Regions from separate parts of the Homo sapiens genome. Here region 1 is linked to region 2. Evidence: fine-mapped expression QTL. A gene starts in region 2. The other region holds a variant in brackets. All regions are shown on one strand. Distances are from middle to middle.

Region 1 (16,457 bases), 23 kb before region 2:
AGAAGTTCGACACCAGCCTGGCCAACATGGCCAAACCCCATCTCTACTAAAAAAAAAAAAAAAAATTTAGCCGGGCATGGTGGCACGCACCTGTAGTCGCAGCTACTTGGGAGGCTGCACATGAGAATCTCTTGAACCTGGGAGGCAGAGGTCGTAATCAGCCAAAATTGTGCCACTGCACTCCAGCCTGGGCGACAGAGCGAGACTCAGTCTCAAAAAAAAAAAAAAAAAAAAAAGGTCAGGCATGGTCAAGGAGATACAAATCAAAATAACAATCAGATCCCACTTCACACTCACTAAGATGGCCATAATCAAACAAACAGACAGTAACAAGTGCTGACAAGCATGTGCAGAAATTGGAAACCTCATACATTGCCGGGAATATAAAATGGTTCAGCTACTTTGGAAAACAGTCTGGCAGTTCCTCAATAGGTTAAATATAGACTTACCATATGACTCAGCAATTAAACTCCTAGCTATATACCCAAGAGAATTGAAAACATACATCTACACAAAAACATGTACCCAAAGGTTTGTAGTAGCGTTATTCATGACATCAGAAAGTGTAAACAACCCAAATGTCCACCAATTGAGGAATGAATAAAGAAAAATGTGGGGCCAGGTGTGGTGACTCATGCCTGTAATCCCAGCACTTTGGGAGGCTGGGGCGGGTGGATCACAAGGTCAGGTGTTCAAGACCAGCCTGGCCAACATGGTGAAACCCCGTCTCTACTAAAAATACAAAAATTAGCCGGGCGTGGTGGCCAGTGCCTGTACCTCAGCTGCTCGGGAGGCTGAGGTGGGAGAATCGCTTGAACCCGGGAGGCGGAGGTTGCAGTGAGCCGAGATCATGCCATTGCACTCCAGCCTGGGCGACAAGAGCAAGACTCCATCTCAAAAAAAAACAAAAAAGAAAGAAAAGAAAGAAAAAGAAAGGAAGGAAGGAAGGAAGGAAGGAAGGAAGGAAGGAAGGAAGGAAAGAAAGAAAGAAAGAAAGAAGGAAAGAAAGAAAGAAAGAAAAAAATGTGATAACGTTGAGAGGTGACAGCGTGCTGGCAGTCCTCACAGCCCTTGCTCGCTCTCGGCGCCTCCTCTGCCTGGGCTCCCACTTTGGCGGCACTTGAGGAGCCCTTCAGCCCACCGCTGCACTGTGGGAGCCCCTTTCTGGGCTGGCCAAGGCCGGAGCTGGCTCCCTCAGCTTGCAGGGAGGTGCGGAGGGAGAGGCCCGAGCGGGAACCGGGGCTGCGCACGGAGCTTGCGGGCCAGCTGGAGTTCCGAGTGGGCGTGGGCTTGGCAGGCCCCGCACTCGGAGCAGCCGGCCGGCCCTGCCGGCCCCAGGCAATGAGGGGCTTAGCACCCGGGCCAGCAGCTGCGGAGGGTGTACTGGGTACCCCAGCAGTGCCAGCCCACCAGCACTGCGCTCCATTTCTCGCCAGGCCTTAGCTGCCTTCCCGCGGGGCAGGGCTCGGGACCTGCAGCCCGCCATGCCTGAGCCTCCCCCACCCCCACCGTGGGCTCCTGTGCGGCCCGAGCCCCCCCGACGAGCACCGCCCCCTGCTCACGGCACCCAGTCCCATCGGCCACCCAAGGGCTGAGGAGTGCAGGCACACGGCGCAGGACTGGCAGGCAGCTCCACCTGCAGCCCCAGTGCGGGATCCACTGGGTGAAGCCAGCTGGGCTCCTGAGTCTGGTGGGGAAGTGGAGAACCTCTAAGTCTAGCTAAGGGATTGTAAATACACCAATCTGCACCCTCTGTCTAGCTCAGGGTTTGTGAATGCACCAATGGACACTCTGTATCTAGCTACTCTGGTGGGGCCTTGGAGAACCTTTATGTCTAGCTCAGGGATTGTAAATACACCAATCGGCACTCTGTATCTAGCTCAAGGTTTGTGAACACACCAATCAGCACCCTGTGTCTAGCTCAGGGTTTGTGAATGCACCAATTGACACTCTGTATCTAGCTACTCTGGTGGGGACTTGGAGAACCTTTGTGTTGGCACTCTGTATCTAGCTAATCTGGTGGAGATGTGGAGAACCTTTGTGTCTAGCTCAGGGATTGTAAACGCACCAATCGGCACCCTGTCAAAACAGACCACTTGGCTCTACCAATCAGCAGGATGTGGGTGGGGCCAGATAAGAGAATAAAAGCAGGCTGCCCCAGCCAGCAGTGGTAACCCGCTCAGGTCCCCTTCCACACTGTGGAAGCTTTGTTCTTTTGCTCTTTGCAATAAATCTTGCTGCTGCTCACTCTTTGGGTCCACACTGCTTTTATGAGCTGTAACACTCACTGTGAAGGTCTGCAGGTTCACTCCTGAGCCAGCGAGACCACAAACCCACCAGAAGGAAGAAACTCCGAACACATCCGAACATCAGAAGGAACAAACTCCAGACGTGCCACCTTAAGAGCTGTAACACTCACCGTGAGGGTCCACGGCTTCATTCTTGAAGTCAGTGAGACCAAGAACCCACCAATTCCGGACACAATGTGATACAGTTATACAATGCAACATTATTCAGCAATGTAAAAGGATGAAGTACTGATATATGGTATAACATGGATGAACTTTTTTTTTTTTAAGACAGTCTCACTTTGTTGCCCAGGCTGGAGTGTGGTGGCATGATCTTGGCTCACTGCAACCTCCGTCTCCTGGGTTCAAGCAATTCTCCTGCCTCAGCCTCCCAAGTACCTGGAATTACAAGCATGCACCACCATGGCCGGCTAATTTTTATATTTTTAGTAGAGATGGGGTTTCACCATGTTGGCCAGGCTGGTCTCAAACTGCCAAGCTCAGGTGATCCACCAACCTCAGGTGATCCACCCACCTCAGCCTCCCAAAGTGCTGGGATTACAGACATGAGCCACTGCATCCGGCCTATAACATGGATGAACCTTGAAAACATTATGCTTAGTGAAAGAAACCAGACACAAAGGGCCACGTGTTATATGATTCCATTTATATGAAACATCCAGAATAAGGCAGAGCCTTAGAGACAGAAAGTAGATTAGTGGTTGCCTAGAGCTGGAGGAGAAGAAGTTGGGGGAAAATGAAAAATGACTGCTAATGAGTATTGCACTTCTTTTGGGGGTGATGAAAATTTTCTAAAATTGAAAGTTGTACACCTTTGCAAATATATTAAAAATATGAATTGTATACTTTAAATGGGTGAATTATATGGTATAAATTATATCTCAATAAAAAATATAATTGCAATTTTGATTGGAATTGCAATAAATGTACAGATTAATTTGGAAAATACAGACATCTTTACAAACCTTCCTTTCCAGAAAGGTTGTAACTATTCATTCATTAGAAAGATTAAGCACTATTCATTCATTCATTCTTGCCTCTTTCTATTTTTTTTTTTCCTTTTTTTGAGACAGTCTAGCTCTGTTGCCCAGGCTGGAGTGCAGTGGTGCTATCTCGGCTCACTGCAACCTCCGCCTCCCGGGTTCAAGCAATTCTTATGTCTCAGCCTCCCGAGTAGCTGGGACTACAGGCCCCCGCCACCACAGGCTAATTTTTATATTTTTAGTAGAGACAGGGTTTCACCATGTTGGCCAGGCTCTTGACCTCAAGTGATCCGCCCGCCTTGGCCTCCCAAAGTGCTAGGATTGCAGGCGTGAGCCACCACGCCCAGCCTGTTTATTTCTAAAGACAACACTTGGGCACTTATTTTTTTCTAGCACTAGAGTCCTATGTAGACATCTGTTTCCCTCACTGGATTATGAGTTCCTTAATGGCAGACAGGATATCTTTTTATATGTTTTCTCCTTAGTGCTTACCACAAAGGCCAATACACAGTGAGCACTTAATACATAATTGTAAAATGAATAGATAAAAGAATGAATAAATAAATGAACAAACTTATCTCTGCTTATATGACCAGCTGGATCCAAGATGATCAAAGAGAGAAAGTATGGAAGGAGAGGGGATAAGATAGGATACAGATAAACAAGATAGATGCTGGACAGGCAGAGGAAAGACAAGAGTGGAATTTGTGGAATGGATTTTGGAATCATGTCAAGAAGTGTTTCTTGAGATCCTACAGTGGGCTCAGTCTGGGACTCTGTGAAGAGGCTGGAAGAGAACCCTGGAGCTGAGGTTCAGAGTATGGGACTCCTGCCCTGCAGTCTGGGCTATTATTGTACCCTGTCCTCTTGCCAGCTATTTTCAGGCCTTGATCCAAATACCTTTTGCATGTTCCCCTTGGCCAAAGTGGCTTTGGTGCCCGATGGATTGTGTACCTCTTCTCTTTTCTCACTGCCTACATGCCTACTTACAGGAGGGGAATCACACACTTGTTCCTACCATCCTGTGTCCCATGCTGGCCTTACCTATAACAAGTGAATGAGGGCAGAGCATTTGGAATGCAGCCCAAAAGAGGAATATGCCTAGAGCAGAAACAGAAAGTGGAAAGAAAATCCAGGGGCATCATTTTATGTGTACATCAAGTCTCTCAAGTATAATAGACACATGCAAAAATATTCATTACAATGGTTCTCTATTATCTAGGTCAAAGGCAGTTTAAATCATTAGTCCTCAATCTACGGTACTCTATTCCTGTGAGTACCTGCACAGAAAAATATGAAGAGAATAAATGTCTAGATCCTCAACTTCCATATGTAATATTTCCTAACAATGATCTGTCTGAGTTGGTTCTTCTTTCTCACTCTCTTTTACAATTACCCTTCTCCCACGTTAAACAAGAATGTCATAGCTCTCTCTTATCTCAAACTTTATTATGGTACAATGACAGGGTATGAACAAAGTGTTAAACAAAGGGACAATTTGAGAATGTATAACTTCTGAGGGAGAGCCCCAAGAAAGCAAATCAATGAGAGCTTCTCTGAGAAATCAGTATTGAAAGAATTGGCATCTTAATTCATCCACGTAACAAACTCATGGCAAGACTACTTGCCTTATATCTCTTAGAATTACAACTCAGAAGTGAAACAGTTATCACAGAGTCATATATTAACATATTTATCTTAAGAAAGAAGTTAGGCAATTTCTAACACAGTAGATCTGATTTGGCTGATTATGTTGGGTGATAACTGGCTATGCAAAACAGGTTGTATGGTAGATGTCTTCTATAAATTATATGAGCTAAATTTGCAGTGCCAATGTTTTGAAAGAGGTATAACCTATATGTGCATATATATATATGTGTGTATATAATATGTAAAATGTTTTGGAAATTCGATTTTTTGCAATTTTTAAATCTTATGATAAAATTTTTAGATATGAACATTATGTCAAGAGTTACATAATTTTTCAAAATTCTTTTAGGTATATAATTTTAAGAGTTTAAGGTTATTAATCTAAATAATTTTTCAATGGTACTTTGTCCCTCCCCCCAACATCAGAATTGTCTGAGGAGGTTACAAAAATACAAGTCAGAGGTCTTATCCTCTGGAGATTCTAACTCAATAGTCTGGGATAGGGTCCAGAAATCTGGATTTCTAACGACATCCTCAGGTAATTATTTACATAAACTAAAATTGGGAAACCCTGGCTCTGAATATGGAGTCATCAGACTAGATTGTTTACCCCTAATTCAATGTATAATTTACACAAACTTTCCCCTCTCTCTGAGCCTATTCTTGTGGTCTTAGCAAGTACAGCATGGCTATCCATATAAATAAAATTAGATTTCTGTCAGTTTGTTTCCCATCATATGAAAACAACTAGACAGATTTTTAACAAATCCAGATGTTGTATTAGGACTCCCTAACTTCTTTTTTGAGACAGGGTCTCACCCAGGCTGGAGTGCAGTAGCACGATCACCGCTCACTGCAGCCTCAACCTCCCAGGCTCAAGAAATCCTCCCACCTCAGCCTCCCAAATATCTGGGACCACAGGCATGCATGACCATACCCAGCTAATTTTTTATTTATTATTATTATTTTTTGAGACAGAGTCTCACTCTGTCACCCAGGCCGGAGTGCAGTGGCATGATCTTGGCTCACTTCAACCTCTGCCTCCCAGGTTCAATCGATTTTCCTGCCTCAGCCACCCGAGTAGCTGGGATTACAGGTGTGAGCCACCACGCCTGGCCTAATTTTAAAATTTTTTATAGAGATGGGGTCTACCTGTGTTGCCCAGGCTGATCTCAAACTCCTGAGTTCAGTGATCCTCCCTCCTCAGTCTCCCAAAGTTCTGGGATTACAGGCATGAGCCACTGTGCCTGGCAGATTCTCTAACTCACTATATGTGGCAGTTTGGAGGACACCTCAAGTAACCATCCTCAAAAGCAGCTCAGAAACTAAAGTTCAACAAGAACCCTCTGTGACTGCTCCTTTGGATAGATTTTCATGTATTAAAATATCATGGTCAAAAAGAAGCAAACGTTGGTTTCAAAAATTAGTCTCTGGTCAAAAAAATCACACTTAGAAATGCAGGTGTTCATATGCTCTAGAGATGTTTTCTGTACGGGCAACTCTGTGTGTAAAGTATTCCAGGGTGAATAGTTTCAGGGTTGTATTTATTTTATTTAAATAAAATAATGATGCTCCAAGATGGTAAAACCATAAGGTAACCATGATAATAAACCATGATAGTAAAACCATAAGTAGACCAGACCTTAGAACCCTAGAAGAGGGCTGTTCTAAAAACTTTATATCCCAAAAAGAGATAATAGGTAGTCCAAGGCCCTCCTATATCTGAGATTTTGCAGTCTTCTCTTGTACCTTCTCTAATTCAAAATTCCAAGCTGGCCAGGCACAACGGCTCACGTCTGTGATCCCAGCACTTTGGGAGGCTGAGGCAGGAAGCTCACCTGAGGTCAGGAAGTTGAGACCAGCCTGGCCAACATGGCAAAACCACGTCTCCACTAAAAATACAAAAAAAAAAAAAAAAAAATTAGCTGGGCATGGTGGTGTGTGCCTGTAATCCCAGCTACTCAGGAGGCTGAAGCAGGAGAATTGCTTGAACCCAGGAGGCAGAGGTTACAGCGAGCCAAGATCACACCATTGCACTCCAGCCTGGGCAACAAGAGCAAAATTCTGTCTCAAAATAAAAATAAAAATAAAATTCGCTGATTGTGTTGGTGCATGACTGTGCTCCTAGCTACTCAGGAGGCTGAGGTGGGAGGATCACTTGGACCTTGGAGTTTGAGGCTACAGTGGGCCACAACTGCACCACTGCACTCCAGCCTGAGCAACAGAGTGAGACAAACAAGGGAAGGAAAGGGAAGGAAATGAAAGGAGAAAGAGGAAAAAGGAAAAGGAGAGAGAAAGAGAGAAAGAAAAGGAAAATCTTAAGTATTATGAGAGATTATAAACTGA[C/G]TGGAGAGTGTGGCTGTCAATGAGGCTAATATAATCTTAGATATGTAAAGTGAAAGAATGGTAATAGTACCCTGTTCAAGTCAGACCATAGCTGGAATACTTAATGAGAGATATTGGCCAACTAAAGTATATCCAGGGGAGACCGACATGGTTGTTTAGGAAGCCACATCATATGAGGAACCTGAGACTGTGGACTCAGTATCACTTCATTTATAAAACAAGAACACTGGACTAGATCAGGGGTTTTCAAACTGAGCTTTGCAAATCCCTAGGGATTCCAGACACACACCTCACAGGGAACACAGTAACAGGGTGGAGAAGCCTACAGAATGTGGCTCTAGGCCTCCCATCCATGCTCCAACCAGATCAGCACCGCTGTTACCTGTTTTAGGTATAGGGTTTTGGCATAATAATAAAAATAGCTAATACACTTTTTGCCAAGCACTAAGCCCTTTATATAGATTATTCCAATTCTTCCTTACAACAATCTATGTCACAGGACTTATTATTTCCATTTTACAGACATGAAAATTGAGGTTTAAAGAGGTGAGGTAACTTGCCCAACTAGTAAGTATTAAGGTAGAGATGTAGGAATTGAATGAGAATGACCCAGAATCAGAATGATAACTTATGGGGATTGTTAGGGATTGGGATATTGGTACTACAATTCCTGATTTGTGTGGGAATTGGACCAAATGACCTCTAAGGACTGAAACTGAGAGTCTTGAATTCTCAGAGGTTCAAGATGTGAGACACCGGGGATCATTACCAGTGCCCAACCTCTCCCAAACCAAATCCAGGAAGTGGGGGAAGGCCCATCCTCAACTCCACGCCTTCTGAGTTAATTGTTATAAATGTGGGGCTGCCATAAGGCAAGAACCCCTGCTCCCATCTGACCACCTAGTATCTTCAAAGGAGAGGAGGCCAGTTCCTCCTCTCCCCTAACTTCTCCCAGAAATGTAGAGAATTTATCCAGGCAGTTCCCTGCATTTGTGACAGAAATTCTGAAGGTCAGTGCCAGAAGTAACTTAAAAAAGAGTCTTGTACATCCCTAACAGTTTATAAGTGGGAAAAAGAAGGCTTAGAAAAGGGCATTAACTAAAGCCATTCTTTTCATTAAATGTTTACTGAACATGCCAGTATAAGAAGTTGGCCCAGACACAAACTCAGGTAGCTGATATGAAGCTCAGGACACTGAAACAGGCCTCAAGACAGAGTCTTCAGAGCAATACATTTATTATTCATATGCCACCTACTTCCAAAAAAAGTGACTCGGAAAGTACAGCCTACTTGTCTCATTTTCACCACTTTAGGGAGGTGTTCTGTAAAGTGTCAAGGGTCATAAAACTCAGGGAGAAATGAGAGAAGCAGGTTAGAAATCCACCTTAAACATGAAATCCTCCAGCTCACCTCCACAATCTGCTCACCTCATTCAAGTGGAGAAAGACTGTTCCCAACAACAGGTATTTCCCATGTATCTCCCATTAGCTTTGAGTATTTATGCTACCAGCCACAAACAACCCTCAGGCAAGAGGAACAGACTCCTTCCTCAGCCCCTTCATTCCAAACCTTCTAAAATTCTTGCTTTATGGTGTCAACATCATTATAGAAAATAAATTAAATAAATAAATAAATAAACAAAATCCTCCCTCTTTCTTACCATCTCAACAGAAATTCAACCCGCCTACTGAGTCACCACAGAGTCACTACAGGTTGCAACAGAACTTCTAAAAACTGCTTCCTCTCTTCAGAAACAGTCATAGAATTCTGGAAGATTAGAGATGAAAGGGACCTTGCAGAGTATCTGTAGTTCATTTCCCATCATGCCCACAAAGAGAAGGCCCAGAGAGAGGAAGAGAATGGTCTGAAGTCATCTTTCTCAAAATGAGTGTTTTTCTTTACCAAATATATCTTAATCAATAGATATGCTGTTGTGAAACTAGTAAAGATATAGATGTAGTGTGTGTATTTGAGAAGGTGGGGATGGTTGAGAAGGTGAGGCAAGCCCATGTTTTGTCAAGGAGATTTGTCAAGGTGATATGGAAAATCAGAGCCCTAGAGTATATTGTCCTATCATTCATGTCCAGGGACTCTAAATTATCTAGGTCCATATTCTGGAGTTCACTTCAGTGACATGGGGAGGTAGGGACTTTTTTTTTTTTTTTTTGGCCTCAAATACACACACACACATATGCCTACAAGGATCTGGGGAGCTCCAAATATCATACTATGGAATTCATATTCAGGAGCATACAAGGATCCTGAGAGCAGAGCTTCTGTCCTAGGGTCAATCCTAAAGTTGCCTTATTCTCAAAAGCTCCAGTTCCTGAAGAAGGATTGAAATATACTGAGAGCCATGAAGAGACAGTAGTGATTTCAGCTGAGGGTGAGAATTTAGGTGGCTCAGAGATAACCACAGCCTTAGGCAACCCAAAGCAAAGCAAACAATGGAAGGAATCAACGATACCAAATGTGTTGGGCTTTGGTTACTGGGGACTTCTAGAAAAAGTAGAGACTGAGTAGCTAGTATAAATGATCAGAATATCAGCCATCAACCACTCTTTCCACCCTCTCCTTATAAACCTTTTACTTAATCCCCCAAATCCCCGACAGTCCTCCAGTGTTCCTTCAACTAGCTAACTCCCTTCCACTCCTTCAGCTACCTCTAACACCCTCACTGACTCTCTCTCCCTGAATGACTATCCCAATACCTTGTCACTGATCATTTTCCCATACATATACACATGCACCCCCACTAACATATTTATCTGCCACACCAGGGGGAAGACAGCATGAGAAAGTTGGAACCAAAGTCTGTATTTTGCAGGGAAAATTTAGCCCTTGGAGCAGATGAACGTGTGCCTTCAAAAGAGGCAGTGTTTATATAGACTAGGAGAATCCTTGACTCTTTCCTTTCACTTTCTCCCTGTCTCTCCACCATCTACACACCTAGTTACCTGTGCTGGTTTCTTTCCATAATGAAAAAAATAGCTAATACACTTTCTGCCAAGCACTAAGCCCTTTATACAGATTAAATTACTGTAAAATTATCAAATCACTCTAAAATGTCATTGTTCCATTCCATTCCCACCAGCAGCATCCTAGTTCAGGACTGAATAACAAACTCTCAGTTCTCTGGCTTCACATTCCCATTTCCATATGTATCCAGATGAATCCTCTTAACCTCTGCTGCGACTTCCGCTGCATGCAATCCTTTCACAGATCTCCAAAAATAGTCAAGATCTCCCATACCTGGACCTCATCCGCTGTTGATGACAACCGTAACTCCTCTTTCACTCCCCAGACCCAATCCAAGTCAGCAAATTCCATAGGTTCTTCATTCAAAATAGATCCAGAATTTGACCACATCTAACCATCTTCATGACTACTACTATGGTCTAAATCACCACAATCTATCACCTGGATTTCTACAATAGCCTCCTAATTGGTTACCCTGCTTCTACTTTTCCCCTTCTACAGTCTCTTCTTAATATAAAAGATAGAGCCTAAATAGAAGCCAAATCATTATCACGTCTGTGCTTAAGATTGTCTAGTGGTGTGGGTGGGCATGGTGGCTCACACCTGTAATCCCAGCACTTTGGGAGGCCGAGGCGGGCGGGTCACAAGGTCAGGAGTTTGAGACCAGCCTGGCCAACATGGTGAAAACCTGTCTCTACTAAAAATACAAAAATTGGCCAGGCGCAGTGGCACACGCCTGTAATCCCAGCACTTTGGGAGGCCGAGGAGAGTGGATCACGAGGTCAAGAGATAGAGACCATCCTGGCTAAAATGGTGAAACCCCATCTCTACTAAAAATACAAAAAATTAGCCGGGCATGGTGGCGGGCGCCTGTAGTACCAGCTGCTCGGGAAGCTGAGGCAGGAGAATGGTGTGAACCCAGGAGGCAGAGCTTGCAGTGAGCGAAGATTGTGCCACTGCACTCCAGCCTGGGCAACAGAGCGAGACTCCATCTCAAAAAAAAATAAAATAAAATACAAAAATATAAAAATTAGCCAGGCATGATGGCGGGTGCAGTGAGCCGAGATCGTACCACTGCATTCCAGCCTGGGCAACAGAGCGAGACTCTGTCTCAAAAAAAAAAAAAAAAGATTGTCTAGTGGTTTCCCATTTTACCATGAATAAAAGGCCAGAGTCTACATTGGCTTTCAAGATGTGACATGATCTAATATCCTGCTGGTGTCAATACTACTCTCTCTTCCCTAGCTCACACATTTTAGCTACACTAACTTCCTAGCTAGTCTTCAAACACACCAGGCAGCAGCACATTTGTTCTCCACCTACCTGGAACATTTCCCCTCCCTACCCCAACTATCTGCGTGGCACACTCCATACTTTCCTTCAGATCTCTGCTCAAATGTCATATTTATCAAAAGGTTCTTTCCTTATCAGCTCCCACTCTGCACTGTCACTTCCCTTTCCCCTGACTCTGCTCTATATTTTTCTATAGTACTCATCACTACCTGTCATATACTTACTGGTTTCTATGTTTATTGTCTGTCTCCTCAAGCTGGACTATAACCTCCATGAGGGCAAGAACTTTGTTTAGAATAGTGCCTGGCACTTAATAAGTTCTTAGTAAGCATTTATTGAATGAATAAATTGTTCCCTGCATAAACCTTTTACTCTAAACATGCTTGGTCTTCTCACTGTTCCAATATAAATAATTGTGGTGGCTAATATTTAAGTGCATTCAATGTGCCAGGAATTTGACATGTTTTTTTTTATCCTATTCAATCTTACAAAACTGACAACTCCATGAGATAAAAGCTATTTTTATCCACGTTTAACAGTTGAGAAAACTGAGGCTCAAAGAGGTTAAGTAACTTGCCCAAGATCAGACAGCTAATTAGTGGCAAAAATAGGACTCAAACTGGGTTAGTCTGACACCAAAACACCCATTCTCCTAATCTTTATATTATCCTGCCTCCCTATAAGGCTTTTTCCTTTCTGTGAACTATTTGTGTAAGTAGCTCTTTGCAGTTTGGCCCATAATTCTTTTCAGGCTTTTTTTTTTTTTTTTTTTTTTGATGGAGTCTTGCTCTGTTGCCCAGGCTGGAGTACATTGGCTTGATCTCGGCTCACTGCAACCTCTGTCTCCTGGGTTCAAGCAATTCTCCTGTCTCAGCCTCCCAAGTAGCTGGGATTACAGGAGTGCGCCACCACACCTGGCTATTTTTGTATTTTTAGTAGAGATGGGGTTTCGTCTTGTTGGCCAGGCTGATCTTGAACTCCTGACCTAAGGTGATCCGCCCGCCTCAGCCTCCCAAAGTGTTGGGATTACAGGCGTGAGCCACTATGCCTGGCCCAGGCTGTTTTTATGTAGATCTATTTGTTTTGTTTTATTTTGTTTTTGAGATGGAGTTTCGCTCTTGTCGCCCAGGGTGGAGTGCAATGGCACGATCTCGGCTCACTACAACCTCTGCCTCCTGGGTTCAAGCCATTCTCCTGCCTCAGCCTCCCAAGTAGCTGCAATTACAGGCACCTGCCACCACATCCAGCTGATTTTTGTATTTTTTAGTAGAGACAGGGTTTCACCATGTTGGCCAGGCTGGTCTCGAACTCCTGACCTCAGGTGATCCACCTGCCTTGGCTTCCCAAAGTGCTGGGATTACAGGCATGAGCCATTGTGCCCGGCCAATCTATTTGGTCTTTCCAAATAGAATGTAAATTCCATGAGACTAGGGTCTGGGACATTTAAACCTAATAACACATTTTATCTGGTATTTTAAAGTTAATTTAAATCAGTTTGGCTAATGTGGCTAATTTCTCTTTTTATCTGTCACAGCCAAGTGCTGGACTACTAGAATAATGAGGTAGTGTCACGAGTGAAAAAAAATAGTTGACTAGGAGTGAGAGTATCTGGAGATTAGTCTCAGTTCTGTCTTCAAACAGGTGTATGACCCTTAGGCAAATCACTTAGCTTCTTTGTCCCTTAATCTACCAATCTTTGAAGAGAGTTGGCCTAGATGGACTCTAACGGTCACTTCAAGTTCTAAAAATACTACTATTCCGTGAACATTTGCAATGTGTCAAGCCAAAAGTAAAAGGCCAAATTATTCCTTAATATGGTTCTATTTTGGATAATGGGAGTACTTTCCTAAGAGCACCATTTCCTTTGTGGATAATTTCAATGACTACACAATGTATGTTCCAAAACAAGAAACTAGCTACAAATGTGGCTTGTTAATGCCACCATAGCTGTCTAAATGACATAAAGTTAAGAAGAAAGCCATAATGTGTTTCTATAAGAAGTATATCAATTGGAGCGAATCACAGAAAAGATGTCATTTTTAAAAGCATTAGTAAGAATTAGAACAGAAAGAAGTGAGCTCCAAGAGGGAGAACTTTGGGAGGAAAAGGAGGATTTCATATGATAGTGAGATTGGAAAATATTAAATATATGATAAAGGCTTAAATAGTACAAAAAGAAAAACGGTAAGCAATTATTATTATTACTTTTATTGTTTTTTGAGACAGAGTCTTGCTCTGTCACCCAGGCTGGAGGGCAGTGGTGTGATCTTGGCTCACTGCAACCTCTGCCTCCCAGGTTCACGCGATTCTTCTGCCTCAGCCTCCCAAGTAGCTGGGACTGCAGGTGTGCACTACCATGCCCAGCTAATTTTTTTTTTGTATTTTTAGTAGAGATGAGGTTTCACTATTTTGGCCAGGCTTGTCTAGAACTCCTGACCTCAGGTGATCTGCCCGCCTCTGCTTCCCAAAGTGTTGGGATTACAGGTATAAGCCACTGCACCCAGCCCAGTAAGCAATTATTAACTTCAGAGTAAATAAAAATCCGTACATAAAAGGAAATATAACCACAGTATGCTATTCTTATGTAAACTGATTTTAAATTAACTAGAAAACAGCTATAATTATATTGAGAAGAAGAGAGAAGGAAGTTAGAGAGGTATATAAGAACTAAATTCTTATCTATCGTAGTAAGAAATCAATACTTTCTTTAAAAATGATGAAAAATAGCAGTATAAGCATATCATTTAAAAATATAGAGGCAACAAAGGGATGTAACCACATATCCGGCATATTTGCACTTTACTTTCTTATAATAAAATGCAATTTATTTGTATTTTGCTTTTGCTTTACTATAAACATAAAATAATTAAATAGTAATTGCCTATATGGTACTTGTCTCCTGCCTTTTTACCCCCATATCCATAATGCCTAATGCAGCCCTGAGTATCCAATATCTTTAACAATTCTTGTTGAGGGAGTGACCAATGTAAAAATGGAGTGAGGATGTCTTGTTTTTGAGTTACAGAATTTTGCACTGGAAGTAAATTTAGAGATTATTTAATCCAGTGCTTCCCCAGTGGGTGTTCCATGGAATACTGCTTCTTGTGATATCAATAGCATGCTGGCAAAAAGTGTTTGGGGCTTCAATAAATTCAGGAAATCCTATGTTAAACAAAATTAATCAGGTATCTCTAATATAGGACATCTTGGAGATTTTACTATGCTAATACACATTGGGAATCTCACACAAAGGCAATTTATTATGTAGTGTTTCTCAGACTCAATCATTTTATGAATTAAGAAGCCCCCTACTAATATCTCCAGTAATTAGCAGTTCCTGAAGCATTCTTTGGAAAATGCTGATCTAGTCTACTCCTCTCATTTTACAGATGGGGAAAGAGAGGCTCTCCAGAGCCTGTTCAGGTAAGGGTGGTAGGGGAACTGGTGTCTCTAGAAAGAAAGGGCCTCAGGATTCTGGAAAACTCTCCAGTGATTGAAAACTCTGGCCTGTGTATTCTGTTTTCCATTAGGCACCTGAGTTCTTTCAAACCAGGGAACAAATTCAGATACAAGCATTTCCTTTTATGATCTTTTTTTTCCTCTTTTTATTTTTCTTATTTTATTTTTATTACTATTACTTTTTGAGACAGGGTCTTGCTCTGTTGCCCAGGCTGGAGTACAGTGGTGTGATCTGTGCTCACTGCAACCTCCGCCTCCTGGGCTCAAGCAATCCTCCCACCACAGCCTTTCAAGTAGGTGGGACTACAGGCGTGCACCACCATGCCCAGCTAATTTTTGTCTTTTATGTAGAGAGGGAGTTTTGCCATGTTGCCCAGGCTGGTCTCGAACTCTTGAGCTCAAGCAATCCACCTGCCTTGGTCTCCCAAAGTGCTGGGATTACAGGCATGAGGCACCATGCCCAGCCTATTTCTTTCTTTTTTGTGAAATAGAGATGGGGGTCTCACTGTGTTGCCCAGGCTGGTCTCAAACTCCTAAGCTCAAGCAACCCTCTTGCCTCAGCCTCCCAAAGTGCTGGGATTACAGGCATGAGCCACCATGCCCGGCCTCCTTTGAAGATCTTTAAAGGTTTTCTGATCTTTAAAGAGCCTGGGAAATGAGCCCAAGTGTTGGCTGGAGCTCAAGCATAAAGCTCTAGAGCAGAAGCTAAAGAGAGTCTCAACAGACACAATGGACAGTGAATTTCAGTGACAAACTGGCCCCCAACTAAGCAATGGTAGTATAATAATAGACCACTCACACCTATACAGTGTTTTCCAATAAACAAATAAGTGCTTTTACAACGTTATCTCATTTGATTCTTACAACAATCTAGAGAGAAAAACAAGGATAGAATTATTATCCCCATTTTATGGAAGAGGAAACTGACTCTTAGTTAAATGCCTTGTCTGTGGTTATATAACATGTTAATGGCAGAGTTGAAAGGAGAACCTAAATTTCTTGTCTCTCAGGTTAAGGCTCTTCTCAATATATCACACAAACTGGGCAAAGATATTGAGTGAGTTTCAATTTAACTCTCCCATGAAGCATCCAAGCTGCTCCTATTGGCTAGCTTAAATAATTAATCAGGCCAGACATGGTGGCTCACACTAATCCCAGCACTTTGGGAGGCCAAGACAGGTGGATCGCTTGAGTTCAGGAGTTTGAGAACAGCCTGGGCAACATGGTGAAACCCCATCATTACAAAAAATACTAAATACAAAATACAAAAATTAGCCAAACGTGGTGGTGCATGTCTGTAGTCCCACCTACTCAGGAGGCTGAGGTGGCAGGATTGCTTGAGCAGGGGAGGCAGGGCAGAGGTTGCAGTAAGCCAAGATCATGCCGCTGCTCTCCAGGCTGGGCAACAGAGCAAGATCCTGTCTCCAAAAAAACAAAA
Region 2 (16,457 bases):
CCCAAAGTGCTGGGATTACAGGCGTGAGCCACTGCTCCTGGCCGATTTTCCTCATACATTTTAACAGACATGGAACCATCTATCAGAACTTCTGAACTATTACTAATACAATCCCAGCCCAAGTTAAAAAAATAAATAAAACAACTTGACATCGTAGTAACTCGTTCAGTCTTATACCGCGTAATTTCCATTAGGATGTCCGATATACTAAAAATAGATCGGGGACTCCATTACTAATCTGAGGACCCCAAGATGGGAACCAGACCCGTTATTGCCCTCAACAGTTCACAGGTTAAGGGTCTCAGGAGGCAGTGGCTGAGCTGGTGTGAAAGGGAAGCAAAGAAAGTTCTATTCGTGGCCCTCCTCCCTTCAAGGCTCCCGTCGCCCCTTAGAGACCCTCTTTTCGCCTCAGGAACTCCCCTTCTCTTCCCATGAAACTTTCACTCTCTTGGCCGACCTCCCCGTCCCAATCTCAAGGAACCTCACTTCTTCCCTCACGGAATCCCGCGTCTCCTCGCAAAAACCCGCATCTCCACCACGGACCCTCCAAGTCTGCAGGGAACTCCCCAGCTCCCATGGAACCCTCGTCTCCTCCCGGAATCCCTTTTCCATTTTCAAAGAACCGCAATTCTTCCTTCACAGAACCTCCATCTCCTCACCCACCCCTCAGCTTCCCAAGGGAGCCCCCGACTCCCCCAGGGAGCCCCCACTCTTCTCCTCACTGACACCCCAGGCCCGCCCGGGCCGGGCCTCACCCCGCGGCTCCTCCACGGAGCGCCGGTGCAGCTCGCGGTAGCGCTGCAGCGAGGGGACGTGCGCGGAGCGGCTGACCTCGGGCGGCGGAGACCAACTCCGCGCCCGGCCTCCGGCTCCAGCTTCCTCCTGGCCCCGGCTCCCGCTGCCGCTCCGGACCCGCTCCTCAGGAAGCCCCATCACGTCAAGTTCCTAGAACCGCGGCCGCCTTTGCGGTCGCGGCGGGTGCCGGGACTGAGAAAACAGGCCGAACTAGAGGCGGGGCCTCCGTAGAGGGGCGGGGCCTGGTGAGTGGGGGAGTGGCTTAGTCTGGCGGGTGGGCGGTGCCAGAGGGGGCGGGGCCGTGTCTGGTTGGGGAGGGATCGAGGTTGGCAAGGACAGAAATACTATAAGGAAAAGTCGAGGGATAGGGGTGGAGCTGACTTGCCGGAAGGAGTGACGCCGTCGAGTGAAAGCAGAAGGGGCGGGGCCGGGTGTGACAAGGGAGAGGGTGGAACCGTGGAGTGCCAAGGGAGGGGCGGGGCCAGGCGGGACAGGAGAGGAGGTGGGCCCATGGAGTGATGGGGAGTAACCCGGCTGGTTGTGACAGGAGAGGAGGCAGAGCCATGGAGTGACCAGAGTGGGGTGGGGTCTTGGAGTGACAGATAAGGGGTTGGGTTAAGGCAAGGATCGAAAGGGAAAGGGATGGACTAAGGAGAGGAGTTGAGTAAGGTCCATCGCGGAGCCGCCCCGTGATCTGATTGCACAGTCCTGACTATCACCAGTTCCTTCCAGGTGACACCCTTCCCTCCAGGTCCCCCCTCTCTGAGCCACACCCACATTCTCGTCCTCCGGAAAAACTTCTCCCATGACCTTGAGGGCATGCTCTGGCGACAGCACCTCCTCTCTGCTCACCCTGGAACCAGCTCAGATTTTCTCCCTCTTATGAGGACATGTCTTCAATCTCCTTGCCTTCACAAATCTCCATCCAGATCTAAAGTACAAGACTCAATAAGTGAAGACTAGGAGACACCTTCAGGTTTTTTGTAATAAGCCCACCTCCTAATTGCACAAATGGCAAACCCAGGAAAGGGAAGGAACTGGTGCACAGTCAGAGAGCAAATAACGACCAAGTTAGGGCCAAAGCTAGGTTCTTTGACTCCAGATTTGGTTTTACTTCCTCGTCAGGCTTGAAGCTAAGGCTTGTAAAATATCAAAGTCTGTGCAAATAGGAAAAATCATTCACATTCTCTTTTTTTGTTGTTGTTTTTGTTTTGAGATGGAGTCTCTCGCTCTGTCGCCCAGGCTGGAGTGCAATGGCACAATCTCGGCTGACTGCAACCTCTGCCTCCTGGATTCAAGCAATTCTCCTGCCTCAGCCTCCCGAGTAGCTGGAATTACAGGTGCACACCACCACACCCAGCTAATTTTTGTATTTTTAGTAGAGATGGGATTTCACCATGTTGTCCAGGCTGGTCTTGAACTCCTGACCTCAGGTGATCTGCCCGCCTTGGGCTCCCAAAGTGCTAGGATTACAGGCGTGAGCCACCACACCTGGCCCACATTCTCTTCTTTCCTTCACAATCTCTTTACTCCACCAAGGGAAACCCCCACCACCACCACCACAACCTGGGCTTAATTACCTCTAGCTTCTCTCTAGCCCCTCCACCCCAGAAAGAAGTCAGGCAGGACCCTCCTCCATCTCTCACCTGCACTCACCACAAAGAAGTGCCCACCTCACCATCATTTCACAGACTGGCTGTCAAGGCAGGAAGGATTCTTAAATATCTAACTCCAAGAGTGATTCTGAGGCCTGAAGCGGGCAGCTCCCACCTCCTGAAGCCTACACAGGCCTTGTGACCCCATCTAGCCCAGCCTCCCTTCCCAGCTACTTCCCTGCACTTTGCCCAGCTGACTGTAAACCTTGCACACCCTAAGCTGAAAAAAAATCTCTCTATGGGAGACCGAGAGTCTGCCCAATCCCAAGGAGGGCGGGAATCTGAGGGCCCACTGAAGGAGTACAGACCTCTTGGGGTGGACATAGACCCCACCAAGGGGTCAGATACTTTCATAAAGGAGATATTCACTGCACCGAAGGGACACACACTTCACTGACAGTACATGGACTCCACTAAGGGAGCACAGATGTTGCTGGGGGTTCTCAGATCTGACTGAAGGGCCCTGGGCCCTGCTAATAGGACATGAATGGCTTTGAAGGGCACTTACCCTAGTGAGGAGACATGGATTTCCCCTAAGAGATACAGAGGATATAGACTTTACTAAGGAGACGTGGACCCTACCAGAGGACTCAAACTCCAGTGAGGAGCTGCCAACTACACTGTGGGAGTGGACATCACTGAGAAGGTGCAGACCTCATCAAGTGGGGAAGGGTCCCACCAGAGGGATTAGACCTCAGGGTAGTGTAATAGACCCTACAAACATCACTGAGGAGATAAGAACTCTCTGGGGTGGGGAAAGGCACAGACAATGGGTACACTTTTTGGTGATAGACTGTTACCCTCCCTGGGCACTCTTACCACACAGCTCTGAGTAGCCCTCTCCTTCCTATCCTCTCTCCCAAGTCCTACACCCAAACCCCAGAGCTGTTCCCGACACACTGCTTCCCCCTCCTGTCTATAGTTGCTACTGCAGCTGCTGTGTATATAGTAGATTTTTCAAGCACTTCAGGCCATCCCTGAGACTGGTCTGGGGTTGGGAAGAGAAAGGATGTGTGTATAGAGGCTTCACCAGCCCCCCTCTCTTCCTGTGGACTTCACAATGAAAGTTTGGAACAGAGACCTCGTAAAAGAAGGAACCTCCCTCATCCTTGGATATGGAGAAGTAGTACAAGCTGTAGTGTGGTTGGAATTTTGGAGTGGAGAGAGGATGGATGAGTTTGGAGGGAATGAATCTACCAGATTAAGGCAATGATGATGATGATGATGATGCCATTTATTGAGTAGGTGCCAAGCCCTATACTAATCGCTTTCCATTCTGTTACTTAATCCTCATGACAACCCTCTAAAATGGGTACTATTATTCTTTCCATTTCACAGATGGGGAAACTGATAGAGAGACTAATTGTCTTGCCCAAGATTACACAGTGTTTGAGCGGTGGCAGAATAGAACCCAGACATCCAGAATATGGAGACCTATTCCCCACCTTGCCCCACTCCTGCCCTACCATCACTACCACCACTCCTTCTTTCTCAAAGTGTCCTTTCCAGAACCACATCAAAAACTCTTAAAATGATGGTAAATATTCAGGTTCCAAGGACCTCATCCCAGCCTACTGAATCATGATCTCTGGAGTGGAATCTGGGGATCCGCTTTCAAAGATCCTAACACACACTAAAGTTTGAGAATGCGGTTGAAAGAGGAGTCAGAAGTGTCGGGGTGCGGGAAGGGATCTGAGGTCAGAGGAGGGATCTGTTGTCCAAAGAGGCGTCTGCAGTCAAAGAGGCCTGGAGATGAAGCATGGGCTGGGGTTTTCAAAAGGGTTTGGGGGTGAAGACAGAGTCTGAAGTCGAAAAAGAGGTCTAAGGTCGGAGGAGGAGTCTAAAATCGGAGGAGGAGGATCTCGGAATTCAAGGAGGGGTCTGGGGTCCGAGGAGTTTGGGGTCAGAGACAGGATCTGGGGTCGAGAGGGATTTGCGGTCAGTGAAAGGGTCTGGGGCCCGAAAAGGAAGCCTGGGATTTGAGGAGGACACTAGCTGTATTCAGGCTGGAAGGAGGAAGGGGTTTGGTCCCTGAGCTGCGTAAAGTGCAGAGCCACTGAAGTCTCGCTTGCCCCGCGCTCTCCCCTCGACCCTGCGCTGCCTTCCTGGCTGTCCATCTACACGCACCTGTGTGCCAGCTGCAGGCTGATAGCGCTGAGCAGACGGGGGCGAGTCAGACCGGGACACGGCCGAGGGCTGGGAGAGGCGCCCCCTCCCGGCTGTCGCGAAGATCAGGCCCCGCCCTCCGCCCTCCCACTCCCCCGCCGCAGCCACTTCCGGCAGGCGCTGCGCTGCTGGGGGGCGCGGGCGAGGATGGCGGCGGAGAACGAGGCCAGCCAGGAGAGCGCCCTGGGCGCCTACTCGCCAGTGGACTACATGAGCATCACCAGCTTCCCGCGGCTGCCCGAGGACGAGCCGGCGCCCGCGGCCCCGCTGAGGGGCCGCAAGGACGAGGACGCCTTTCTGGGAGACCCCGACACCGGTGAGGCCCGCTGACCCCGTCCCTGCCCTGCCTTGGGAAGTCCCCGGTCTTCCTTCTTCTGTGTCAAGCATCCACCTCCAGCTCCATCTCCTTAATTCATCCCCATCTTCTTGGATCTCTCCCTTCTTCTCCCTTGTCTCTGTTAATTATTTGGTGAGGAAGGGGGTGCATTTCTGCCTTGGAGGCGTAGGATGCGACAACGGAGAGGATGCTAGGGACTGCAGTAGAAGGGATTGGGCTTACCTTCTGGGAAGAACCAACTAACGATGAAGGAATGTTGAAGGGGAGATCCTAAGGAACCGCTGTGATCACCCAGAAGAGGGCTTTCTCTAGCCACAGAGGACAGGATAGGAGAAACCAAGTCAGAGACTGCAGCAAGAGGGATCCAATCTGTGCCTTAAGAGAAGTTCCCCACAGCCAGGGATTGTGAGAAGCAGAGGGTCTGGGAGAAGCGGAGAATCTCTTCATGTCTAGGGAGGGGTAAAGAGAATATGATTCCCCTCTGTTGGGTGTTGGGAGACGGAGGCATGGACTGCATGACCTCTCAAAAGTCCTTGGGGACTAGAACGCCTTCACTCTCCTGTGGATTACCCCACCCCTCCCTGAGCCATGGATCTGGCCGGGGTATTAGTAAGGTACTCTGCTCCCTAGGAAGCAGTCTCCAGAATTTTACTGTGTTCCCCTCAGCCCTCTGCTGGAATTGTGAGAAGTGGGGGTAAGAGAAGGAGGAGACAGGGATTGGAAGAGACCTGGGGGCAAAGAGCTCTCTGTGCATTCCTTCCCTGCTGCTCTTCCTCCTAGCCATGTGGCCCAGCTTCATCCTCCCCTCCATTCTTCATCCTTCATCCCCCATCCCTCTGTCCCTGCACGTCACTTCCTGGCATTAGAGCATCCTTCTACCTCACTCTCGCTTCCTCGCAGTGCCTGCACTTGAGCCTTGTCTCTTACCAGCCTGGCAGATGCTGCTTTTCCGGCTTGGCCCTTCCCTAGCTGCTCCCAGCCTGAAAGCCCCAAATTCTCTCCTCCTCTACACTTTCTGGTCATCTGGCCCTGACCAGCAGCCCTTGCCAACCTGACTGGACTGCACTCTGTATGGGGTGGGGGTGAGGAGATAATGAAGATGGAGTTTAGAGGTTTATGGGCGTCAAATGTCAGGGCTGCGGATCAAAACTTATTTTCCAAAGGGAGTGGAATCAGGAGGTAGCAGGGAGAGGAGTGGGAAGATGTGTCATGATGGATATCAGCCTGAAGCTAGGCCTTTTATTCAGTAGTCAGGAGTGAGACTTCTGGTCCTAATACAGCCCTGACTCACCAAGCGACAACAGGCACACCTACCCTGTCCTGGGCCTTAGTTTCCTCTTCCAGCTCAACAGAGAATGCCTGTCTCTCTTGACCTAGAGATTGGAACTGCCTGACATGTTTTCTTCTGGCCCTCTGTAAATGTCTTAGCATTTACCAAAATCTATGATTATTTATTTGTGCAATTATCTGATTACTCCCTGTCTGTAAGCCCCATGAGGGCAGGGATCATGATTGTTTTGTTCACTCTCCTTTCTCCAGCATCAAGACCTTATCCATAGGCCGGGCGCGGTGGCTCATGCCTGAGGTGGGTGGATCACTTGAGGTCAGGAGTTCAAGACCTGCCTGGCCAACATGGTGAAACCCCATCTCTACTAAAAATACAAAAATTAGCTGGGCATGGTGGTGGGTGCCTGTAATCCTAGCTACTCGGGAGGCTGAGGCAGGAGAATCACTCGAACTGGGGAGGCAGAGGTTACAGTGAGCCGAGATCACTCCACTGCACTCCAGCCTGGGTGACAGAGTGAGACTCAGTCTCAAAAAGAAACAAAAAACAAAAAACAAAACAAAATACACTGGCCGGTGTGGTGGCTCACACCTGTAATCCCAGCACTTTGGGATGCTGAGGCGGGTGGATCACCTGAGGTCAGGAGTTCAAAAACAGCCTGGCCAACATGACAAAACCCCATCTCTACTAAAAATACAAAAAAAAAAAATTAGCCAGGCCTGGTGGCAGGTGTCTGTAACCCCAGCTACTCAGGAGGCTGAGGCAGAGGTTGCAGTGAGCGAAGATCGCGCCATTGCACTCCAGCCTGGGCAACAGAGTGAGACTCTGTCTCAAAAAAACAAACAAACAACAACAACAAAAAAAACCCTCATCTCTATTTATTTATTGGGCACTCAATAATTGTTGAATGAATAAATGCATGAGAGAGAAGATCTCAGGATGAAAGAATGGTAGGAGAGAGGATGAAAGAATGGTAGGAGAGAGCAAGTTCCAAAACCTCAGGGAGTATTTTGGGAAGTTCAATACAGGCTCTGCCCTCACCCCTGTATGGAAATCCAGCAGAGATCCTAGTCATCTGAGCTTCTGGGAGTTTATACCTTATGCCAAATTTATGTGTCAGGTTTGTGTGTTGCCATCATTTCAGTGTAATCATTTGAATGCCATATCTCCCAATCCTACTTCCAAGCCCCAAGGCTTCCTCGGTTCACCTGGACCAGACTACAGGCTGACATGGCCTCCTGTGTTCTCAACCTGGTGGTACCATCTAGTGGCACAGCACCATCCTCTTAGCCAGGACCTTGGTTGTGCCCAGCTAGCCTCTAGCCTGCCATTCCCTAAACCCAAGTGCCAGGCACCCCACATCAGGCTCTGTGGGAAAGAGAGCTAGACAGTGATCATTCCAAGGTTGGGAAATACTTTCTTTCTTCTGAGCTCCAAGCCCTTGTGTTCCTTTCTCTCCCAGGCCTGTGTCTCCAGATGTCCTGCAAGTGCCTCATCTATAGCATGTTCTATTTTGAACTCATCATATCCCTTCCCCATGCACCTGCTCTTCCTCCACTGCCATTCTCCATTAATGACACTGCCAGTCACCCAGTCTCCCAATAATGAATGGCATGCTGGACTCCTCCTTTTCTTCTCATTTCCAAATGGTGATCAAGTGCTCTCTGCACCCCTCCTAAGTATCTTCCAAATTCCTACTCATCATCCCTGTCATCACCACTGTAGACTAAGCCACCAACCTCTCTTATCAATATTATTTATAGGCTTCTAGCTACTCCTCCTGCCTCCTCCCTCTTGCCCAGTCCCCACCCCAATCCATCCATCGCTTCTGGTCATGTCACTCCCTGGTTCAGACATCTTTGGTGATTCTGCCGGGCATAGTGGCATACACCTGTAATCCCAGCATTTTGGGAGGCTAAGGTGGGCAGATTGCTTGAGCTCAGGAATTCAGAACCAGCCGGGGCAACATGGTGAAACCCTGTCTCTAGAAAAAATACAAAAATTAGCCAGGTGTGGTGGTGCATGCCTGTCTGTAGTCCCAGCTACTCGGGAGGCTGAGGTGGGCAGATGGCTTGAGCCCTGAAGGTTGAGGCTGCAGTGAGCTGAGATTATACCACTGTACTCCAGCCTGGGCAACAGAGTGAGACACTGTTTCAAAATTTTATATATATATATATTTATTTATTTATTTATTTTAGTGATTCTCCCCTTAAGGGAATAAACAACAAGCCAGGGATGACCCTAGCCTCTAGCCAAGATCACTCTCCTAAACTCTGGACTTGTATAATCAATTTTGTTCAGGATTATTTTGTTATAAACCCAGTTTAACTGAGCTACATCCAAAAAGAGAATTTTACTGGGTAGCATAACTGAAAAGTCCAGGGATATGGGGTTTCAGGCATAGCTGGATTAAGGTACCTAAAAAGGAATGGACTTTTCTCCATCTTTTGCTCTGCCTTCTTTTGGTGGGCTTCATTGGCAGAAGGCCTCCCATTTTATTAGGGGCAAGATGCCCCCAGCAGCTACAGGCTTACATCCTACCAACTTAGCAACTTAAGTGTAATAGAAAGAGGAGCCTTTCTCTTTCCCAGTAGTTCCAGCAAAATAACAAAGTTTGGGTCTTATTGGCCTGGCTTTGTTCACATTGCCTGTTACTGCACAGAGGTACCTGTTCTGACTGGCCAAGTCTGAGTTATATACTTTGGTCAGGGATGAGGGAGTTGGCTGAGAGAGGAGAGAGAATGTTCCTTAAAAGAAAATTGAATGAGAAGTGGTATCCAAGCAGATACCAGGGATGAGCCCTGAAGGTAAAAATTAGATATCTACTAGGCCAACTGCCTCCAGACAGCTTCTTATGGTGTCCCACAAATTTATAATAACCAAAATTGAACTTGTCATCTTTCTCCCAAAAGACTTATTCCTTCTGGTTGCAAATTAATCTTTTTCCAGTATCCTGCTGTTGCTCTTCCCTATCAGTAAAATCAACACTGTTATTGCCCTAGCTGTTCCACAGTGCACATAGTAGGTACTCAGTAAATATTTTTATTGTATAAATCAATAACTTTATGATGGACTGGTGGAGTAGAGAGTCTTGAATAGCTATGATAGGGACATGTCACCTTTACCTCCTGGATCCTTATATCTGACTGGAGAAAACAAATTAAACCATACCTAGGGCCGGGCACAGTGGCTCACGCCTGTAATGCCAACACTTTGGGAGGCCAAGGCGGGCGGATTGCTTGAGGCCAGGAGTTTGAGACCAGCCTCATGGCCAACATGGTGAAGCCCCATCTCTACTAAAAATACAAAAATTAGCTGGGCATGGTGGTGCATGCCTATAATTCCAGCTTCTTGGGAGGCTGAGGCATGAGAAATGCTTGAACCCAAAGGCGGAGGTTGCAGTGAGCCGAGATTGCGCCACTGCATTCCAGCCTGGCAGGAAGATTATCTCTCAAAAACAAAGCAATAAGTACCAAGAAATAGCAACAAAAATTAGCTTGTAAGGTTGGTTTCTGAGGGTAGAAATGGCTCTTGATGCCATGTGGAGCAATGGGAAGGAGGCTTTCTAGTTACACAGACTCTTGGTCCTGCCACTTATTCATTTTATTTTATTTTATATTTTACTTTAAATTTTTTGAGATAGGGTTTCACCCTGTCGCCCAGGCTGGTGGGCAGTGGCTCACTGCAGCCTCGAACTACCAGGCTGAAGTGATGCTCTTACCTCAGCCTTTCGAGTAGTTGGGACAACAGGTGCACACCACCATTCCTGGCTAATTAAAAAAATTTTTTTGTAGAGACAGGAGTCTTGCTATGTTGCCCAGGCTGGTCTTGAATACCTGGGCTCAAACAATCCTCCCACCTCGGCCTCCCAAAGTGCTGAGATTACAGACGTGAGCCACCAAACCTGGCCCACTTACTCATTTTATGACCTGAGATGGGCAATATCACCTTTCTTGGTCTTAGTTTTCTCATCTGTAAAGTGGCGAGAGTGGGACTTATTTCATAAAGTCTTGGGAACACTTCAATAAAGGAATATATGTAAAATGCTTAATATGTAGTCAGCATCAATAAATATAAGTTCAAAACCCTTTCCCACACTTCTTTTGAAACTTCTAATGCCGGGTGCTGTGGCTCACGCCTGTAATCCCAACACTTTGGGAGGCTGAGGCGGGATGATTGTTTGAGCTCAGGAGTTTGAGAACAGCCTGGGGAACATAGCAAGACCTTGTCTCTATTAACAACAACAGCAACAGCAACAACAACAACAACAACAACAAGACATTTCTAGGGGCCAAGGAGAGTTCTGTGCCTACAGTGGGTGTTTAACGTCTGTTTGTTTGGATGAATTCCAGTTTTATTTACAGACTCTGTGATGCTGATGTTGAGGGTTAGAGGCAAGCATTATGAAGTGAGGGAGAGTCTCAGAAGATAACCTTTTTTTGAAAATAAAGTTTAAAAACAGCAGGGTGCGGTGGCTTATGCCTGTAATCCCAACACTTTGGGAGGCTGAGGCAGGCAGATCACCTGAGGTCAGGAGTTCAAGACCAGACTGGCCAACATGGTGAGACCCTGCCTCTACTAAAAATATAAAAAATTAGCTAGGCGTGGTGGCATGTGCCTGTAATCCCAGCTACTCAGGAGACTGAGGCAGGAGAATCACTTGAACCTGGGAGATGGAGGTTGCAGTGAGCCGAGATTGCGCCACTGCACTCCAGCCTGGGCGACAGAGTGAGACTCTGTCTCAAAAACAAAAACAAAAACAAAAATTACATGTTCATGATAAAAAAAAAAAAAGCAATAGTGAGGAAGAATAAAAAAGTCCCCTTTCCCATTCCTATCTCCCTGTAATTTTTCCTTTTCATTTCAAAATATATGTGTTAATTTTTTTTAGAGACAGGGTCTATCTATGTTGCCCAGCCTGGAGTGCAGTGGCTATTCATATTGCAATCATACTGCAGCTTTGAACTTCTAGACTCAAGTGATCTCCTGCCTCAGCCTTCTGAATAGCTGGGCTTACAGGCATGCACGAGCACTCCCGGTTTATGTATTGATTTCTAAAAAGGAAATAGATATAAGTGGTAAAAATTTCAAACCAAAAAAACTCCCACCCCATCTCATTCCCATCTTCAGTATCCTTTCCCAAGAGTAACTTCTGTAATAATTTATAAACATTTCTTGCATATATCATCATTTTATCTATATATTTGGTTTCTTATTTACACAAAAGATGGGACTGTGGATCATGAAGGTCTTTAAACACCACAAGGAGCTTAGATGTTTATTATGTTGGCATCAGTGAACCACGTATTTTAAACAGAACAATAAAATGGTCAGTTTTTAATATTATCACATAGACTTTTAAAGGGGTTATAGTCCTAGTGCATAGTAGCAGGTACTAAAAAAATTGAATGAATAAACTTTAAAAAACATATTGTGAGTACAGCATGAGGTCAAGGTAAAGTAAAGACTATTTCTTTACTGTTCACAAACACCTAGGACCTTTAGGCCATTTAGGGACCTGGGTTCACAGCTAATAACACTCAGAGGAGGGAGCTATGGGATGGAAGAGGGTCTCAGCCCTGGTCAAGGTGGAAAAGGAATAGAAATAACTTGGAGTGAGTACCTACAGTGCACTGGGTGCACATCACCTCATGGAATCCTTGTACCCCTATCCCACCAGTTAGGGATTAGTTCCATTACTAGAATGAGGAAGGTGAGGTGCATGACTTGACTGACTTGTCCATAGCCACCAGCAAATAGTGAGCTTTCAGTTCTCTCCTACCTCCACTCTTATCGTCCTCCAGTTTGTCTCCAGACAGTAGCCAGAGGGATCATTTTAAAACACAAAACAGGCCGGGCGCAGTGGCTCATGCCTGTAATCCCAGCGCTTTGGGAGGCTGAGGTGAGTGGATCACTTGAGGTCAGGAGTTTGAGACCAGCCTGGGCAACATGGCGAAATCCCATCTCTACAAAAAATACAAAAATTAGCCAGGTGTAGTGGGGCATGCCTGTAGTCTCAACTACTCAGGAAGCTGAGCTGAGGTGGGAGGATGGCTTGAGCCTGGGAGGCAGAGGTTGCAGGGAGGCAGAGGTTTCAGTGAGCTGAGATGGTGCCACTGCACTCCAGCTGGGGTGACAGAGCCAGACCCTGTCTCAAACAACAACAATAACACACAGAACAGATGGTTTCACATTCTTGCTTAAAACTCTCTAGTAGTGGGCTGGGTGCGGTGGCTCACACCTGTAATCCCAGCACTTTGGGAGGCTGAGGCAGGTAGATCACCTGGGGTCAGGAGTTCGAGACCAGCCTGGCCAATATGCTGAAACCCTGTTTCTACTAAAAATACAAAATTACTCAGGCATGGTGGCATGTGCCTGTAATCACAGCTACTGGAGAGGCTGAGGCAAGAGAGTCGCTTGAACCCAGGAAGCGGAGGGTGCAGTGAGCCAGGATTGTGCCATTGCACTCCAGCCTGGGCAACAAGAGCGAAACTCCATCTCAAAAACAAACAAAAATAGCCTCTCGAGTAGTGACCTCCCATAGTCCTTAGGGTAAAACCCAAGCTTCTCCCCAGGCTAGTAGAGCCCCACATATCTTCCTTTTTTTTTTTTTTTCTTTTGAGACAGAGTCTCACTCTGTCACCCAGGCTGGAGTGCTGTGGCGCGATCTCGGCTCACTGCAACCTCCACCTTGTGGGTTCAAGTGACTGTCATGCCTCAGCCTCCCAAGTAGCTGGAATTAGAGGCACACATCACCATGCCCAGCTAATTTTTGTATTTTTAGTGGAGCCGGGGTTTCACCATGTTGGCCAGGCTGGTCTCAAACTCCTGACCTCAAGTGATCCACCCGCCTCGGCCCCCCAGAGTGCTGGGATTACAAGATTGAGCCACTGCGCTCAGTATGTATCTGGCCTAGCTTCCACCCTTACTACTCTTTCCCCATGCCTGCTACACCAGAGCCGCCCAGGCCTTGGTTATTTTTTTTTCTAATGTGCCAAGCTCATTCCCACTTTAGGGCCTTTGCATCCACTGTTCCCTCTTTCCAGAACATTCCACACACATACTCTTTGCTCTACATTATAGCTGGCTCCTTCTCATCCCTTAGTTTTCAGCTTAAAAGTCACTTCCTGAGAGGCCTTCCCTGATTTCTGCAGCTAAGGAATCCTCCCTCCCCTACCACCATTATTCTGTCATTTCCTCCTTTTTCTTCATAGCACCTGCCACAACTTGTAATTATAGACTCCTTTGCTTATTGGCTTTTTCTTCCAGGGCTCTATGAACCACATGAGGGCAGGAACTATCTGTTCCCGTCCCCTGGCACCTAGCATAGGGCTCTCCATATTTAAGGAATGAGTGAGCTGATAACTGAAGTGAGGTTGGAAGGCAGGGTCCCTCCACTCTGTTTATGTAGCTGCCTCCTTGCATGGAAGGCTGGGCCCCAACTGGGGCAGGATCCGATTTCCACTGAGGGCTGGAACCCCCACCCCACCCCCCAGGAAGTGTTCTCAGCCCTGGGCCCTGGGTGCCAGGAAATTTGGCCTAGGTATCAGGGAGGGGCGGGAATCCAGCCTCCCTGCTGCCCAGCTGGGGAGGTCCCTGTCTCTTCCTAGCCGGGCACCGTTGCCCCGCCTGTCCTGGGGTGCACGCGAAAATGAGGAAAGGTGAGTAGTGCTAGCCAGTGCGGGGATTGTGTGGCAGGGGCGGGGCAGGGAAAGCGCTGAATAGTCCCACCTGGAGGGTGGGCAGGGCCAGATAGGAGATGCCCAGACCGACCCCGGCTGCCTGCCCGCAGACCCGGACTCCTTCCTGAAGTCTGCACGGCTGCAGCGGCTGCCATCGTCGTCGTCGGAGATGGGCAGCCAAGACGGGTCGCCGCTACGCGAGACGCGCAAAGACCCGTTCTCCGCCGCAGCGGCCGAGTGCTCCTGCCGCCAGGATGGGCTCACGGTCATCGTCACGGCCTGTCTCACCTTCGCTACCGGTGTCACCGTGGCGCTGGTCATGCAGATCTACTTCGGGGACCCCCAGGTGAGGGGGACAAATGGGGAGGGGGAGGAAACTGGGGAGTGGGGAGTGGGGTAATGTTTGAGGAACTGTGGAAACTGGGGAATGGCTGAGTGGTAGAAGGGGAGAGAGGGTGGTGACTTGGGAGAGGAAGGTCCCAAAGAGAGGAGCTCCAGGGCATGAGGGAGACAGAACAAGGAAGAATAAGGACAGATCCATTAGGAGGCACTTGGGGTAATGAGGGCAGAGTCAAGGCAACAAGGGGGCAGGGCTTCGACCTTCATGCCGCGTAGAGTTCTAGGGCTAGTGGAGGTGCCCTAGGGAGGTGGACAGCTCCTCCTGCCCCCACCAAGTCCTCTTTCCCCTCCCAGATCTTCCAGCAGGGTGCCGTGGTGACCGATGCTGCCCGCTGCACTTCACTGGGCATCGAGGTGCTCAGTAAACAGGGATCTTCTGTGGACGCAGCGGTGGCAGCAGCCTTGTGTTTGGGTATCGTGGCTCCACACAGTTCTGGCCTGGGCGGGTAAGGAGCAGTGGAGGTCGGGGTCCCCCAGGCCTACTTCTTGCCTCCAGGTCTGTAGGCCTCATGTGCAGCACTCCTAACTTAGGGAGAGGGGCTTTTGGGCCCCAACTCCTTGCATTTTCTCTTTCTACACCAAATTTCACCCCCTTCTCCCTGGATGGAGTCAGAAGAGCAAAGCTACCTTATGGAAAACCTGAAAGTGTTTTCAGAAGCTTTTTTTTTTTTTTTTTAACTAGAAAAAGAAATTTGTAAACCATAAATTAAGATGCACAGGTGGAGGTATACTGTCATCAATTAAGGCAGAGATATTTCAACTTCTAGGATCATAAATCCCTATGGGTCTGATGAAAAGCCTTGCACCCTCTGTCCTCCAAAAATACACCCTGCACTAAGAACTCTTAGAAGTTACAAGCTGGCCACCCATGGGCAACACCCAGCACACAGACTGGTTTGGTTTAGACACTGAACTGTCTTAAAATTTTGTTTGCTTTTGTTAAAAAGTTGAGAATTTTCATAAAAATCCAGATTTCCAACATCTCTTGAACAATCGGGAAATCCGATAACAACTTGGGCCCGCATTCTCACATGGCTGAAGTTACCTGGCGTGGAATAGAAGCTGCTTCCCATGATGGGCATGCACTGTCCAGTTTGCCGTAGTTTCTACCACTTCCTCTTCTCTGTCCTGCTTGCCTTAGTTTGTCATTTGGCTGTGGGCATTTAAGTTTGCAGCCCCCATCTTAGACGTAAATAAGCTACAGAAAAGGAACAAGCTGACAAAGTTCCTATCTTGGCTCCTGTAAGACCAGCTCTCCAAGCCGTACCAAAGAAATTCCTCTTTTGGTTTTGCATGTTCTATCCTTACATAATCCAGTCCTGGGGGAGGGGCAAGGGACATACCAAGTAGACAGGTGCAGGAAGCTGGCAGGGGTCCAGCTCTGGTCCAGGGTGGGGGCATGGGGCAGAACATCCTGTTCTGCCAGTCTCTGGGCTTTTCCTAATCAGGGATTAAAGTCTCCAGTGACAGGATAGAAGAGGTCCATGGACCCTGGGTCTCCAACCCTCTTGGTTTTGCTCCCATCCTCTTAGGGTGGCTGAGTCTGTGAATCCATGCTGGGGAGGGAGCTCAGACACCTGACCCCAAATGAAAAACTGAGCCTACAGCTCTCACCACTGGGGGTGGAGGGGCAGCAGATTCATTGTACAGAGGGGTAGCATGTTATCATCACACTTCCCCTTCTGTGTCTCTCCCAGTGGGGGCGTGATGCTGGTACATGACATCCGACGAAATGAGAGCCACCTAATTGATTTCCGGGAGTCCGCACCAGGGGCCCTCAGGGAAGAGACCCTGCAAAGATCCTGGGAGACCAAGGTGGGGACCCTGGTGAGAAGAGAGAGTTCAGGGGAGTCTCTCTTCATTGCCCTTCTGCTAACCCAAGCATTAATTTGCTAAGTATTTACCAGGGGAGTGGGAAAAAGAGTTGAGCAGGATTCTCTTAGGCTATGAGAGAGTCAGGCAGCCCCCAAGATAAAATAATGAACTAGAAAATCTGGAACCTTACTTCTCTGGGAATCTTACCTATCTGGCACGTGGGAAGGAAGAAAAAAGGCTACTGAGTACCCTGAAATGTCACGAAGTTGATGCAATGAAACTCACACATCTCACTCTGAGCCAGTTGACTATAACTTTCCCAG

The links.
Region 1: its variant is fine-mapped to the expression of GGT7 in whole blood (INTERVAL, PIP 0.99).

What each region holds. Positions count from the first base shown.
Region 1 is chr20:34,883,946-34,900,402 of GRCh38, reverse strand. All of the region lies in intron 2 of ACSS2 (acyl-CoA synthetase short chain family member 2), which reads right to left. Among named protein-coding and RNA genes, the nearest start is that of ACSS2, 16 kb to the right of the region's middle. The variant C/G (reference allele first, on the strand shown) is at 7,289.
Region 2 is chr20:34,861,122-34,877,578 of GRCh38, reverse strand. GGT7 (gamma-glutamyltransferase 7) reads left to right here and starts at 4,723. Exons shown (of 15, transcript NM_178026.3): 1 at 4,723-4,932; 2 at 14,031-14,266; 3 at 14,614-14,765; 4 at 16,017-16,134. The coding sequence starts at 4,764. It overlaps ACSS2 (acyl-CoA synthetase short chain family member 2), which reads right to left and starts at 967. Exons shown (of 18, transcript NM_018677.4): 1 at 756-967. The coding sequence starts at 933. RefSeq lists silencers at 679-1,108, 1,189-1,328, 4,552-4,841 and enhancers at 1,599-1,648, 1,669-1,748, 13,995-14,546.